Linked DNA regions of Homo sapiens. The protein of the gene in region 2 purifies or fractionates together with the protein of the main gene of each other region. This does not show direct contact. Each region holds a gene or a part of one and is shown on either strand. Other genes may lie near its edges. The genes, in order: SFMBT1 and SPRR2D.

Region 1 (3,825 bases), on a different chromosome or scaffold from region 2:
TGCAAAGATATCTGTGTGATAAAAGTTGGGAATGTTCTAAGGCCTGTGGTGTAGGGATCCATGGGGAATAGTCCACAAAGTTAAAAGGTTTTCTTTTGTGAAATGATTTCGCTGAATAATTCTGTCTTTCCCGTGTTAAGCTAGCCAGCCAACTGACTGACCAGCAACTAAGCTGGATTTGGTCACTCCACCCAAGATTCACAGCCTCATTAGCCAAGAGAGTAATTGATGACTTAGCTATTATTGATACATTGTTTCTTTTTGTGGCTCTTTTTAAATTTCTTGACTTTTATGTGATCAGATTGTTTAATTTAAAATCTATTACATTTTTAAGAGAAGCAACTAAAGAGATACACGAGAAACAAAATACACAATGAAAGGGAATTTCCTTTTTTTGCTGTTTTGTTGTAAACTCAGATTTTTCCTTTTAAAAATGATTGCTGGCTAGGCACAGTGGCTCACGCCTATAATCCCAGCACTTTGGGAGGCTAGGCAAGAGGATCGCTTGAGACCAGGAGTTCGAGGCCAGCCTGGATGAAAGAAAAGGGAGACCCTGTGTCTCCAAAAAAATAAAAAAATTAGCCAGGCGCGGTGGTGGGCACCTATAGTCCCAGCTCTTCAGGAGGCTGAGGTGGGAGGATCCTTTGAGCCCAGGAGTTCGAGGCTGCAGTGAGCTATGATTGCACTGCTGCACTCCAGCCTGGGTAACAGAGTGACACTGTCTCAAAAAACAAACCAACCAACCCAGTATGATTTGCCTATCCATAATCTTCCTGCTTCTGTAGTATACTTTTGCTTTCACAGTGATACCTAGACTGGGTTTAGCTGTGGAATGGTGGTGTAGCAGCAGGTATCATTTAACTCTAAAGTCTGTAGAAAAGATGAACTATACAAACTTCATTGGCTTTTTATTTTGGCGTCATGTTATGTTCACATTAAGTAAATAGATACAGTCCAAAAACCAAAAGGCCATTATTTAGGCAGACATTTTACATCTTTAATATTTTTAATGTTACATTTTTTCTCTTATAATTTTCCAAAATTTTGCTTTCTTGGATTATTTGGCTTATAACCAATATTTTGGAATAACATAAAATAAAAGAACTTGTAATGAGTAAATGATACAACTTCCTTATGGCAGAGTATTTTTCTTTTAGTATATAGCATTCGTTACCTAACTGGGATATTTTGTATTTGAAAATAATATTTCTGTATATACATAGTTATTAAATGGGATAAAAGTGTGTGGGGATTTTGGTTACTTGCGAGATTTTAAACCATTAGAGTTTGGGGAGTGGGATTTTGATAGGAGTCTCCCATTCTTCAGGGGATACTAACCTCATTGGAAAAGAATTTTTTTTTTTTTTTTTTTTTTTTTTTTTTTTTGAGACAGACTTTTACTCTTGTTGCCCAGGCTGGAGTGCAATGGCACGATCATGGCTCACTGCAACCTCTGCCTCCTGGGTTCAAGCAATTCTCCTGCCTCAGCCTCCCAAGTAGCTGGGATTATGGGCATGCACCACCATTCCTGGCTAATTTTGGTATTTTTAGTAAAGATGGGGTTTCACCATGTTGGTCAGGCTAGTCTTGAACTCCTGATCTCAGGTGATCCACCCTCCTTGGCCTCCCAAAGTGCTGGGATTACAGGCATGAGCCCCCGCGCCTCGCGGAAAATGATTTAAAATAGAAAGAATGTGGTCAGGTTGTTGCAGATTCATGTTTAAACTTTTCAAAAGGGGGAGGAAGGATAAGAACACTGACACATTATTAATAGAAAAATCATATGACTTCACTGCATAAGTCTTAATGATTTGATTGTAAACCTTTTCCTCTAACTCAGAGACACCTGAAAACGTGTATGTAATTATTCTTTCTTTTATTCAAGAGGATGTTTATAACCTTATTTAGTTCTCTTTTGTCTTCAGGCAGTCACTCAAGGAATTTATTTAAAAACAAAAAATAGGCCGGGCGCAGTGACTTACACCTGTAATCCCAGCATTTTGGGAGACCAAGGCAGGCAGATCTCTGGAGTCCAGGAGTTTGATACCAGCCTGGACAACATAGGGAAGCCCTGTCTCTACAAAAAAAAAAAAAAAAAAAAAAAAAAAAAAAAAAATTCAGGTGTCTTGGTGCATGCCTGTAGTCTCAGCTACTCGGGAGGCTGAGGCAGGTATATCTCTTGAGCCAGGGAGACAGACGTTGCAGTGGGCTGTGATCACACCCCTTCAGCCTGGTGACATAGCGAGACCCTGTCTCAAAAAAATAAATAAAAACAAAAAAAAAAGTAGTCTGTATATTGTGTGTTAAATGATGTGTTAAGTACCTGTTGAACTCTGTGGTTTGAACAGTTGAGTAACTTCAGTGAGCCAAGCATGTCACTATGCAGAGAGAGGCTATAAGGTGATATTTCCAACATGATGCACAGTACTGTGTGCATTGGGTCTTTTTTTTTTTTTTTAACTGGCATACTGGTCTGGTGCATTGGTTCTTTTTTGATGTTTTTGCTTAGTCTAGAGAAAGGTTAATTATTAAACTGATGTGGGGCAGATAGGGTTGTTAAGTGTCAGTATCTGTTTATCTGGGAAACTTGGGTTCTGTCTGAGATGGTATTTGGAGAGGATCTTAGATGAGAGTTGGAAGGTGGTTTGTTGGCAGTTGAAAGTGTGGGACAGTCACACATTTGGAATGACAACATGAGCTGGGATGAGAAATTTAGCAATTACTAAAATGCCTCAGGAGTTTTTCTTGCTGATATTCAATTTAAAGTGTTAGCCAACAAGTACTCAGATTTGAATTCCAAATTATTATTTTTTATACCCTGAAGAGTTTTTAAAAAAGCATTTGAGGTGGCTACTATGGAATATTTGCTCAGTAGTAAGGCTGCCCATGGGCTGCCACTGGTTCTTCATTTCTGTTCACATTAATTTGCTCCCCAGACTAGAGTGCTTTCCTGTCTCTCAGTTTTTTCTAGTGTTCTTTCTTAAGGATCGGTTCTTCTAAAATATGCTTTTTCTGTGTTAAAAATAGTATATGGTAATTTTGAATTGTAACTTTAAGATACCTTTTGGTCTCATTTTGACTTGCGTCATAAAATAACCCTCTTGGAGTGGTTAGATGGTGATCACACCAATGCACTTAGCATATTGCCTGTCTAGAACATAGTGATATATAATGAGGATATAAATTTTTATTATTAAAAATGTTTATATGTAACAAACCTGCGCATCCTGCACATGTATCCTGGAACTTAAATGAAATCAAATAAAAAAAAAGTATACCAAAATTAGCCAGGTGTGGTGGCGGACACCTGTAGTCCCAGCTGCTTGGGAAGCTGAGGCAGGAGAATTGCTTGAACCCAGGAGGTGGGGGTTGCAGTGAGCTGAGATGACATCACTGCACTCCAGCTTGGGCAACAGAGAGAGACTCTGTAAACGTATGGTTGTGGTAAGTTATATACATATAGCATGAATTGTACCATTTTAACCACTTTTACACGTACAGGTCAGTGGCATTAAGTACATTGACATTGTTGTGTAACCATTACCACCATCCATCTCTAGAACTTTTTTAATCTTCCCAGACTGGAACTCTGTACCCATGAAACAGGGATTCCCCAACTCCCCTCCTCCCACCCTAGACAACCACTGTTCTACTTTCTGTCTTTATGATTTTGACTATTCTAGGTACTTCATCTAAGTGGAATCATACAGTATTTATCCTTTTGTGATTGCCTTAATTCACTTAACATAATGTCTTTAAGGTTCATCCATGTTGTAGCATGTGTCAGAATTTTTTTTGAGGAAGTAAATTATTTGAAAGACTTCC
Region 2 (3,566 bases):
ATTGATGGGCTTTTGGGTTGATTCTATGCCTTTGCTATAGTGAACACGGCTGCGATAAATATACACATGCATGTGTCTTTATGGTAGAATGATTTATATTCCTTTGGGTATATACCCAATAGTGAGACTGCTGGGTCAAATAATAGTTCTGTTTTAATGATGATGTACTGCTGCTAATAGACTACTATCAAATGAGTAGTAATGATATGTCAGAAATTGTGTCAACTGAATTCCTGATATTAATTCCATTTTATGCCTAAGATAAGTTAGTGATATAAATATTATTTTCCACATTTTAAAATGAAGAGATTAAAATTCTGATTGATTTGTTCTTCAAATCAATCAAACACTAATTAAGGAAAATAAAAGGGGTTTAAAATGATATAAAAATAATCATTGTTATGGCCCAAAATTCAGATAACAATAATTGTGAAATCCTGGTCCTGGGGATCAGAGAAAGGTAGAACAAAATCCAAATAATCATATAATATTACTAATAAAGCAGATTCTAAAAGAAACAAAAGATCCATTCACAAATATATATGCATAGATACTTTATTCAGGGAGTGAAAGATAAATGACAATTGCAAAGGTGGTAGAAGCTCATGACCAGGTGACAGACAGACACAGAACACATCAACAGAATTGTCTGATGGTTCCCAGGGAGAGAGCTGCTGCTCTTTCTTCCGAAGCTCTGGGAGCTGGCACAGCTGAGGACTTCCTTTTCTTAGCTCCACCTGGACAGTGGCAGTATGGCAGCCTCAGAAAGGGAATCTTTTGCTGTCACAGATCATCACAGGCAGGCCACAGGTTAAGGAGAAAGAAGCTCCCTGTGCATCCATGGAAGGCTTTGGTGAGAAGATGCAAGTGGAGCTGTGGAACGAGGTGAGCCAATTATCCTTATCCTCTCATGCTCCTGATGAATCCTGAAGCTGTTACTTGCTCTTGGGTGGACACTTTGGCTGGCAGGGTGGGGAAGGTGTCACAGGAGGATATTTCTGCTGGCACTGCTGAGGTGGGCAGGGCTGTGGACACTTTGGTGATGGGCAGGGCTCAGGGCACTTCGGGGGTGGACATGGCTCTGGGCACTTTGGCGTGGGGCACACAGGAGGTGGCTGGCAGGGCTGCTTGCACTGCTGCTGTTGATAAGACATCCTGCTGGAGTCTCAGGATCTGAAAGAAATGATACAACAGTGTTTGTGGGAAGGGACTCCTCCAGAGAGAGAAGCTAATGCTTATGTAATACCATGAAATATTATTTCCCCATCTCCAAGAAATTATTTAAACTCTTAACTGCCTTTTCAAGACTACTTCGTTTCTCCCTTCCACTTTAGCAAATTGCTTCATTGGCCCTGGGAAATCTTGTGTTTTCTCATACAATTTTTCCAAAGAAAATATCTCTGTAGTAATGAACCAAGCATGTTATTTCTGTGAAAATAACATCTTTAGGAAAGGCAGTGACAAGTTCAGATACCATGAGCAATCTCACAAGCCATTTCTCTTATCATTATCTGTAGTAAAGTCCCAGTGGGTTGACTTGAGCACAGAACAAAGGGCTGTTTGGGAAGGATTGCAGGCTCTTGGCACCTGTTAAGACACAAACCTTTGAAAAAGACACCAGGAAAACATGGGGAAAAAATACTTTGTTCTTTTTTCTTCTTCAATTCAAAGCTTTCCTATTAACTTCTCTGTCCGTATGGACACCTAACTGTATACAAGAAACAAGCTAAAATAGCATATCACTGTACTCTAAATCTAAATTTCCATCTACTAAGTAGAATCAAACCCATGGTTACAGAATTGTATCAACCAAACTTGCTGTTTTCAGATTAAATTCAATATTTCAGGTCACAAAGAACTGAGGAACTCAAGGACTCACACTCACCAGGTTCTCCAAAGCAGATCGGTGCTAGAGTACCAGGAGTTTAAGAGTTGTGCAGCAGGGAACCTCTTTATAGGACGTTCTGCCCCACCCAGTGGGAAGTGGAACTGCCTAAAACTGGGCTGGTCCAGCAATGTCCAAAGTAAAATGCAAATGTATCCATATCTGGCATGAGAGGCATTCTCAAACTAGGAAATATCCTGTTCTGGGATCTCCCCACTGGGTTAAGTGCTCATGAGTCACAGAGAACCTGCCTTAGATCTCAGTTTCAGTGACTTTCGTCAGAGAGATAATTGGAGGGATTCTCTAACCGGTTGTCAAGGGCTCTCTTTCTTGATTGGGAACAATGATCCCTTCCTATCTTACCTCCCCTGAGTCATAAAACTTCCTGTCCTGATCCACTCTAGCTGAATGCCATATTGTTGTACATGAACCCAACTCTACCTCTACTTTCCTCATACAGTTGGCCAATGTGCTAGAAGGAAGGAGAGACTTAACAAAGGCCTGAGCTAAGCTTTTTCTTTGCTAAGTTCCATGACAACAGGCATGTCACCTCTCCTCCCTGGGATTATAAACAGGGGACAATAATACTTACCTCTGGGTTTGCAGGCTGACCACATTGTGCTATCTGCTGACCCTGTTCAAGACTGAAATTTTCTTTGCCACCTTTTTCTCAGATAAAACCTCAGATTTTTACCTATATTCCTTTCCTCTTTGAAGCTGTCTTCTGCACCACATTTGTAGCTTCTGCACCACATTCGTAGAGGCACTTGCATCCCAGGACAGATTTGAGAGTGAGATCTAGTCTCCACAGCACGTTTGCTACTTGGTGCCATCAAGGATGTGTACTACAGCCTTTTTATTTATAAAAAGTAATGGAGAGAAGGAAACTAAAGTTACAAGTATTGACTCAAAATCTATGTATGGAACCATGCATATATGGTTCCCTGTGAACATCCTATAGAGAACAAGCTGCATAGACATTATCATATGTAAATAATTAGAAGTAGGTGTGCAGAGTGAGGAAGGTAAGAGCACTTAAAGTTTAACTCAAGGGGAAAATACAAACAAAGGGTAATCCAATATGTATTCTTCCTCTCTATTTCCAAACAGGTTTTAGATGTTTCTCAGTGTTTTTTAATTTGTTTGCATGTTCTTCCTTTGTCTTTTCCATAAACCTTCTAGTCCCACAAACTGCTAGATTATCAACTCATACCCAATGTATACCTGTCATCTGTCCATTTTGGTACATATTGTTCACTTAACACATATGTTGTCAATGCATTTAGTGATTGTCCTTTCACAACTTTTTTAAATGCTTCCTACAATCAGTGAGCCTTTCTAAGTACTGTATATTAAACATTTAAAGTGATGTTGCTACTGCTTCCTTATCTGGACCATTAATCGGGAAGCTTCCCAAGAACATGGTTTTATAAGTGAATAAGAAGAAAGGAGAATGAGGAAGAGGAAAGACTCAAAATCACTGGAGCAGTCACCAACTGTGCTCCAGGAAGGGCAGAGTGTTGAATCAAGCCAGCATCACATCCCTCAGTTAAGTAGGTTAGGTTCCCAGAACAGCTGTTGCTCCTGTCAGTAAGGAAGAGCTTTTAGCCAAGATCACCACTGGCCAGGACACTACAGAAATAGAGCCATCATGTCAGCACCCTGAGGCCAGGTGATTACA

Evidence for each region.
Region 1: the proteins of SPRR2D (region 2) and SFMBT1 purify together in Homo sapiens (affinity purification with mass spectrometry; one large-scale study listed by BioGRID and IntAct). This does not show direct contact.

What each region holds. Positions count from the first base shown.
Region 1 is NC_000003.12:53,039,260-53,043,084, reverse strand, and holds part of SFMBT1 (scm-like with four MBT domains protein 1), read left to right. Parts: intron 1-3,825. UniProt on the Homo sapiens protein: Histone-binding protein, which is part of various corepressor complexes. Mediates the recruitment of corepressor complexes to target genes, followed by chromatin compaction and repression of transcription.
Region 2 is NC_000001.11:153,039,193-153,042,758, forward strand, and holds SPRR2D (small proline-rich protein 2D), read right to left. Parts: upstream 1,929-3,566; 5' UTR 1,886-1,928; exon of another isoform or gene 1,880-1,885; intron 1,174-1,879; 5' UTR 1,155-1,173; coding exon 936-1,154; 3' UTR 540-935; downstream 1-539. UniProt on the Homo sapiens protein: Cross-linked envelope protein of keratinocytes. It is a keratinocyte protein that first appears in the cell cytosol, but ultimately becomes cross-linked to membrane proteins by transglutaminase.